Linked DNA regions of Homo sapiens: regions 1 and 2 are each linked to region 3. Evidence: fine-mapped expression QTL. A gene starts in region 3. Each other region holds a variant in brackets. All regions are shown on one strand. Distances are between the middles of the regions.

Region 1 (2,770 bases), 20 kb before region 3:
CATGAATAGATGATGCTATAAACAGCTGAGGTAAAATGAGCCCTAGCTGTGGAGTCTCAACACATCAAAAATGTACTTCTGTCTAACCATCACTTGATATACAGTCATGCGTCTCTTAATGACAAGGATGCATTCTGAGAAATCCATCGCTAGGTGATTCTGTCACTGTGCAAACATCACAGAGCGTGCTTACACAAAACTAGCTAGTATAGCCTACTACACATGTAGGCTATGTGGTATAGCCTATTGTTCTTAGGCTACAAACTTCTACTGCATGTTACTGTACTGAATGTTGTGGGTGACTGTAACAATGGTATTTGTGTATCTAAACATACCTAAACATGGAAAAAGTACAGTAAAAATATGGTATTATAATCTTATGAGGCCACTGTCACATATGCAGTCTATCATTGATGGAAAAGTCATTCTTCAATATATGACTGCATTTCAAACATCTAAAAAAGGTAAAATGGCTGGCAACGTGCTTACCTTGCTGGTTAATTCATTCATTTTTTTCTTTACTGACTACCTACTGAGGCCAGGCCCTTATACTAAATACTAGGAGATAAATACTGAGAGATAAAATGCTGGTTTTGAACCAGACCTAACCCATACAGAGTTTACATTCCACACCACTTGTTAAAGGCCCAAAGAACTTCCCTAGATGGATATAATTTGAGAGAACTTAGTCAGAAGAAAAGGTTCTTTTACCTCTCTGAACTGCAAGAACCAGGGTGGCTGACAGAACGCTTCATCTAGAAATTTTGGAAAAAAAAAAAAAAATTAGCATAATCCATATGTCAAGTAGAATCATGCAGCTCTAATTTACTATTATCATAATAAACATAAATTTACTCAGAGAAAAAGATAACTGGCAAAAAAAAATTTAATCTTTCACAGACTCAAGCAACATAATTAGTACAACATCAAGCTTTCTCCCTAATAACCATTAATTGGAATCTTTTTCAACACACACCAAAAACATGCTGGATTCTTTTTTCAAAAGT[G/A]AAAACCAAATTTTATACATAATACATATATATGTGTGTGTATACAAATATAAAAAACAGGGTATATAACTATAAATAAGATATAAATGTGATAAAAAAGGAGTATCTAGCAAGCCACAAAATATTCTAATAAATATCTCTTTTTTAAAGGACAGTAGTAGAGTCTGGCAGCAAAGCTTCTCTTTATCATTAATTATTTAGGTAGCTGATATACAAATGTTCTAAAGTGTGGTTTTCATGGAAAACAGCATTAATAATTCAAGACTTTAAAGAACTCAGAAGAAGAACCCTAAGTCTCAGTGGATTTCCAAAACATATATTTAAAAAAATAAAGAATACCTAATTAAGCAGAACATTTAAAAAATATGATAAATACTAAACATAATTTGGAAGATCCAACTACTCCATCAAAATATAAAGGGAGGCAGCCAAGTAAAACTGATTATTTCAAAGTTTAACATGGTAGCAGAAAAACAAAGATTATACTAAAGGTTTAGGGTGGTTGCTTTTGTATACATGAGCCCAAGAGTCTAACAAGCCCAGGTCTAACATTGATGTTATGCAAATGCCTTCTATATTTGGAACATGAGCCACTAGTTGCTCTGAGAAATACCAGTTGAAATGCTAAGAGATATGACCCACCCAGTTTGTAGTCTGGGAACATCTGATAAGATTGACATTAAGATGCAAATGGCCACTAACATCTCCTTTAACAGAAATTACTTCCTTTAGGCTTACTAACCCAAGGACATCCCCACTATAATAATCACTCAATCTGTAGGTCCAGTGATGGTTGTCTGAACTTTTATGACAACTTGAAATAAAGTTAAATGCAAGTTTACTCTAAGATGAATTCATTGAGATTAACTATATAAAGTGCTTATAAAGATCAGATTAAAGCACTTACAAAGATCAGATTAAATTGTTTTGGAATACTCAAATTTTCAGCTTTATTTTTCATATAAATAAATGTAAGTTTTTCATATAAATAAATAAACAATGTTATTTAAAAAAAAAACATGAAGATTGTCTGACCTTACTTTCCATGCTATTTGTCTCTAGAACTAATAATTATTTTAGTTTCTTATATGTAAAATACGCATTGACTTCTCTGGACTACAGAGCATTTGTAACATAAGGGATTTCCTGAGAAGTTCAATGCAGAAGCAAGGCAACTCTGAGGTGTTTTACTGCATTTGACTCTAAAAAGTACAGCTTAAAAAAAAAAAGTGTACCCTTTGTCTATCAACCTCAGGAACACAGCACTACACATCCATCTCAAAACACTGGTTTCTTTGTTCACACATACTTGTTAATTAACAGTTTATAGCATATCTACAATTGTCCTAAAAAGCAACATTGTCAAACTATGTTTTACTCAACACCACACCACAGTCCTGTAAGATGGTATTAAAAAATACATAAAATGGGCCAGGCGCAGTGTCTCACGCCTGTAATCCCAACACTTTGGAAGACTAAGGCGGGCAGATCACGAGGTCAGGAGATCGAGACCATCCTGGCTAACATGGTGAAACCCCGTCTCTACTAAAAATACAAAAAATTAGCTGGGCATGGTGGCAGGCGCCTGTGGTCCCATCTGCTCAGGAGGCTGAGGCAGGAGAATGGCATGAACCCAGGAGGCGGAGCTTGCAGTGAGCTGAGATTGCGCCACTGCACTCCAGCCTGGGCGACAGAGCAAGACTCCATTTCAAAAAAAGAAAATATATACATATATAGTATTTATATATATATTTATTTTATTT
Region 2 (2,770 bases), 32 kb after region 3:
TGAGGGTATGGGAGTTTGAACTTAAAAGGAAAAAGATGGAATTTATCATTTGCCATTGTGATTGCTTACTGAAATTAGACATCAGTCTTATCCCCAGTCCCAACTTAGCTACCCATGCAGAAGATACAGACCGTCCAGAAGATACATAACAAGCTGTCACCTTATTCCATAAAACTCTTTCCTGTTGTACCCAACACATAATCATGACTGCTCAGCCTAGCAAAGCAGTTTGATACGTTATAGGACAGGCTGTCAGAATAAAATTATGCACATTTTGCTATCAAACAATTCTGCTGTAAATGGTTCCTTTAAAAGAAACTTCTTGCTGCAGAAGAATTTCCCCTCCAGGAATAAAGGAAGAGTAAAATACTAATCTGCATTTCTTCAGAGGTGTGACACGGTCTACTTTATTACCATGTTATATAATAAACATATATAATGTAGAAATAAGGATTTTTATGCAGGTATGCATAGAATTATATAGAACTTTAAAAAGTTATTTTTTAAAATTTTTTCACATGGTGAATATTTTATTACAGTATATAACCATGTAGTATATAACATGTACATATTTTTATGTACAGTATATAACGTACATATTTTTATTACCTAGTATGTGTATGTAAAATCTATAGTGACTTTGTTTTGTGTATTGAAAACATCTTTGTAAGCTGCACATTTTTGTGGGAGATAAAGACTTCTTTTTTTAAATCTTAATTCAGGTGAAGGTACAAGTAAGAAGCTGGCGAAACATAGAGCTGCAGAGGCTGCCATAAACATTTTGAAAGCCAATGCAAGTATTTGGTGAGCTAAATTTCTTTGTATTCAGCAGCTCAAAAATATCATGGCTGAGGTAAGATTAAAAATTTGAACATGCTTACAAAAGCAACAAAGTGAACAGTTGTTAGCATCCTACCTCTCAAATTCTATTTCCTTATGAAAACTTATCATCCATTAAAGAAAACTTTATCCAATCAAATCCAGCAATTAGCTATTAAATGAAGGTGCTCATGAACTAGGCTTTACTGTTTTTTTTTTTTTAATGGGATACAACAGTAGAAAATCAGTGCTTCTTGCAAATATTAATATTAACATTTTGTATTTAGACTTTGATTATTTCTACATTGAAGAAAACAAAGTGTGAGATGGAGAAAGATCCACTAAAAGTACTCTTTTGGGAATTCTAATTTTGAAGAAGCAGGCAGAGGTTTTCTTTTATTATATAATGTATACCAAAAGAAGAGAATGTTAAGTGGGATATTAATTCTTGACATATCTTTCTAAAGTAAGATTTTTTTTTTTTTTTTTTTTTTTTTGAGACGGAGTCTCGCTCTGTCGCCCAGTCTGGAGTGCAGTGGCGGGATCTCGGCTCACTGCAAGCTCCGCCTCCCGGGTTCACGCCATTCTCCTGCCTCAGCCTCCCAAGTAGCTGGGACTACAGGCGCCCGCCACTACGCCCAGCTAATTTTTTGTATTTTTAGTAGAGACGGGGTTTCACCGTTTTAG[C/T]CGGGATGGTCTCGATCTCCTGACCTCGTGATCCGCCAGCCTCGGCCTCCCAAAGTGCTGGGATAGATTTTTTACTACTTTAGGTGTTTCTAGATAGAATATTGGTCCTGGAGCATCTCACATATTAAAGTAGTGTCCACTGGGTGCACTCTGGAGCTTGGCATGCTTTCAAGTTCTTCTTGTGCATACACTTACATATGCCTGAAGTACGATCTGTGTAATCAGCTTATAGTTGACAGTAGAGACCCAGGGAATTTGGGATGGGTTTTTTGTTCCCTAGTCATAGAAAGGCTTTTGGATTAGGGGTGTAGTTAGGTTCTCATGTAGTATTCCTCTCTTTTTGTAAATCATTCTAAACCGTTTGGGTAGTTTAGAACTAACCAGTGACATGGCAACCCTCTAGATAAGCAGCTGCCCAAGACAAGCCTTGCATTTCACAAGATGATGCTTGATTCTCTAGGGTCATGCATTATAATTGATCTATGCCAGGCTGGGCGGGGTGGCTCACGCCTGTAATCCCAGCACTTTGGGAGGCTGAGGTGGGTGGATCACTTGAGGCCAGGAGTTCAAGACCAGCCTGGCCAACATGGCAAAACCCTGTCTCTACTAAAAATACAAAAATTAGCCAGGCATGGTGGCAGGCGCCTGTAATCCCAGCTACTTGGGTGGCTGAGGCACAAAAATCGCTTGAACCCGGGAGGCGGAGATTGCAGTAAGCTAAGATTGTGCCCCTGCACTCCAGCCTGTGAAACCCTGCCTCAAAGAAAAACAAGGCCAGGCATGGTGGCTCACACCTGTAATCCCAGCACTTTGGGAGGCCAAGGTGGGCAGATCACTTGAGTCAGGAGTTCGAGACCAGCCTGGCCAACATGGTGAAACCTCGTCTCTACTAAAAATACAAAAAATTAGCCGAGTGTGGTGGCACGCTCCTGTAATCCCAGCTGCTTGGGAGGCTGAGACACGAGAATTCCTTGGACCCAGTAGGCAGTGGTTGCAGTGAGCTGGGATCGCGCCATTGCACTCCAGCCTGGGCGACAGAGCAAGACTCTGTCTCCAAACAAACAAAAAAAAGACATGCCAAATGACATGGCAGGTATTGGGTTCTCCCCCACTGGTGATGGCCATGCTGTTTCTGTATAGCCTGAAGGTGAACCCAACCATTAAGTACATTTGTAGAAATGAGGGGTATGGAGTGTCCTTTCTGCATCTTGGCACTTTGTCAGCAAAAAAAGCTAACAAACTTTACTATATTTGTGCTTCTTGA
Region 3 (2,770 bases):
CGCACACTCATCCCGCGGGCACTTAGTTCTCTCGGGTTTTCCTGGGTTTTCTTCAGAAATACATAATATCCTGTTTCTTCATGAAATCCTGTTTTTATTTTACATAAAATCCTGTTTTTTCTTCAAAAATACATAAAAGCCTTCCTATTTCTGTTTGCTTCGTATTTTCCTCATATTCAAGGGGTCTGAAATTATCTCCTAGGAAGGCAATGTGCAGCAGACGGGGTCCTCTGACAAGGAATGGCGAGGGCCCCCAAGGAACTGTCATCACGCCGATAACCTTGGATAGCCACAATTTTATTTAGAATATAAAACATGGAACTCGACTTCGGAATTTTAGTCTAGAAATGGGGACTTCCCCCTAGCTTTTATGATTTTTGAAACTCCTGCTTGGACGCAATTGTCATCTTGCATAATCGACAGTAATTTTCAGGTTTATGGAATTTTGCAAACTTTAAGCAAAGCACATCAATCAGGCTCAGTGCTGCGGCTTTTCTTCGCATCACCGAGGTAGAATAGCACCTCTACTCCCAGAACTTAATCCAGGCGAATGCAGAAGGCCTTTGCTGGTTTTCTGGTTTGGGTAGTCTTTGGGTATTCACTTGGAAACAAGGCGAATTGATGGATGGATAGAGTGATGGATGGATATGTAATAAATATAATATAGTTCAATGACAGGATCCAGATGGTGGGTGTAGGAGAGTTTACTGTAGAATTCAACTTTCTGTGTATTTTAAAGGTTTTCATACTAAAATTGGTGGTGAAGTGGTGTTGTCACACAGATTTGACCAAATCCCTGCTGCGTATTAGCTGTGAGATTGGGACAACATGCCCAATACTCAAGTTTTCTTGACTGATGTGGACAATTACGTATCCCATGGGATGGTACAAAAAAGTCAAAAGAACATTCCCCGCACTACCAGAGGCCCTCGAATCAAGGGCGGCCCCGAGTGGCGGGGAAAAGAAATGCAAGCCAGCGGAGGATGCTGAATTGTGGAGGTCGGCTCTCGGAAACGCCTGCAGCCAGGCAGAGGAGTTGCGGTACCGCAGTTTCGTTGCATCGGGCTGGCCTTCAGGTTGTGCGACTCAGCCTGGAACCTCTGAATGCAAGATTCCGACCTGAGAATGCGCTTCAAGGACACCTCCGAAGCACCCAGAAAGCCACCGCCAGCCTATTTTTTACGCTCCTTTTCCAGCATGCCTCTCCCTCCCCCCAGTATCTATCTGCTCGTTCCCTAGGGGTCTTAGAAGCCTTTTGCTTCCAGAAATGACAACCATATTCCCTGACTCTACGACATCCCAGGCTGTTTATTTCGTCTTATGCCAGTTTCATTTTAGAAAATGCGAATGTTGTCACCGAACCCTGAGGAAACCTGCTGTAAAATACGCGGGTTTAGCGAGAAGAAGCGGAGCGAGTGTGCGTTGCGATCTTAAAGACTGAGGACAGCCAGCCCGAGGGCCTAGAAACAGCGTTAACCGCGCTGAGCCCGCTGCGGGAGGCGGAGGGGTTGGGGCCATGAGAGGGCGGGGCCGCATCTATGGCCCCGCCCCGGCCCTTTGTGACGCAGGACAACGCCTGCCACGCGTCGGAACTCGGCCGCGGGACATCCACGGGGCGCGAGTGACACGCGGGAGGGAGAGCAGTGTTCTGCTGGAGCCGATGCCAAAAACCATGCATTTCTTATTCAGATTCATTGTTTTCTTTTATCTGTGGGGCCTTTTTACTGCTCAGAGACAAAAGAAAGAGGAGAGCACCGAAGAAGTGAAAATAGAAGTTTTGCATCGTCCAGAAAACTGCTCTAAGACAAGCAAGAAGGGAGACCTACTAAATGCCCATTATGACGGCTACCTGGCTAAAGACGGCTCGAAATTCTACTGCAGGTAGGAAATGCTGCGAGCTGCCCGTGCGTCCAGTTGCACAAAATCTTGCCTGCCTCCACCAAGCGGAAGCCTCATTGGTTGGTTGGTTGGGGTTTTATTTTTTAACGGTAAAAGTTGAGCCCTTTATTCATTAAAAAAAATCACATTATATGGCAGTGTTTCTCTAATAAACTGAATATTTTTATTTAAAGTATTGAAAATGTTGTGGCAATAAATTATCAAAAATACGATACATCCACACACACATCAACCACCACCATTACCCTTGGGACCTCCAGAATTAAATCAAGGTTCTGCCTATAAGGATGTTCACATTTTTCCCTTGCCAGAAGTATTGAGTCTTTACGGAGGAATACATGGAATAAAGAGATTTAATTCTGGCCTTCAGAAGCACGATTTTTATAGGTTGTGGCCACTTTCTATCAAGAAAAACAGTTACTTCCCTGGTGACTTCTGGTGGGCCCTGCTCCCTCATTCCACCTGGTGCCTACTCTGATTTAATTGATGGCTTATTACTCAGAGGGAGAATCTTTTCTTTACCCTGTAAAGATAGGACTGGGAAAAACAGTTCCATCCATTTAGAATAAAATAGAGAAATTTAATAAGAATTTATACAATTTTATAATTTAATAAGAATTTAATAAATTATATCATTAGAATTTAATAAGAAAATATACCATTTTAAATTACTATTAAAATGACTTTTTGAGGCTAAAACTGCCCTATCATTTTTTTACAACAAACCCAGGGAGTTAAATGAGTTCTTTGTACAAGCCATGCACCTAGTTAGGGGCTGGAGACCCATTAAAAAGTTAACTGTTGAATAGTTTTTGTAAAGATAACAATTTTAAAAAATGAGATGGCTGTTAATGATTAACTTTGGGCAAAT

Which allele goes with the higher level. Alleles are on the strand shown, and positions count from the first base shown. SD is a standard deviation of normalised expression in the study named. Not every link is listed here.
With allele C in place of T in region 2, the expression in left ventricle of the gene that starts at base 1,560 in region 3 is lower (small effect, 0.34 SD a copy in GTEx).

What was found. PIP is the estimated chance that this variant, and not a neighbour inherited with it, causes the effect.
Region 1: its variant is the best candidate, but not a certain one, in a credible set for the expression of FKBP7 in tibial artery (GTEx, PIP 0.84).
Region 2: its variant is the best candidate, but not a certain one, in a credible set for the expression of FKBP7 in left ventricle (GTEx, PIP 0.77).

What each region holds. Positions count from the first base shown.
Region 1 is chr2:178,497,196-178,499,965 of GRCh38, reverse strand. PLEKHA3 (pleckstrin homology domain containing A3) reads right to left here. Exons shown (of 8, transcript NM_019091.4): 6 at 712-755. Among named protein-coding and RNA genes, the nearest start is that of PLEKHA3, 18 kb to the right of the region's middle. The variant G/A (reference allele first, on the strand shown) is at 1,008.
Region 2 is chr2:178,445,539-178,448,308 of GRCh38, reverse strand. It overlaps PRKRA (protein activator of interferon induced protein kinase EIF2AK2), which reads left to right. Exons shown (of 8, transcript NM_003690.5): 3 at 723-804. Among named protein-coding and RNA genes, the nearest start is that of PRKRA, 4.3 kb to the left of the region's middle. The variant C/T (reference allele first, on the strand shown) is at 1,507.
Region 3 is chr2:178,477,390-178,480,159 of GRCh38, reverse strand. It overlaps FKBP7 (FKBP prolyl isomerase 7), which reads left to right and starts at 1,560. Exons shown (of 4, transcript NM_181342.3): 1 at 1,560-1,881. The coding sequence starts at 1,661.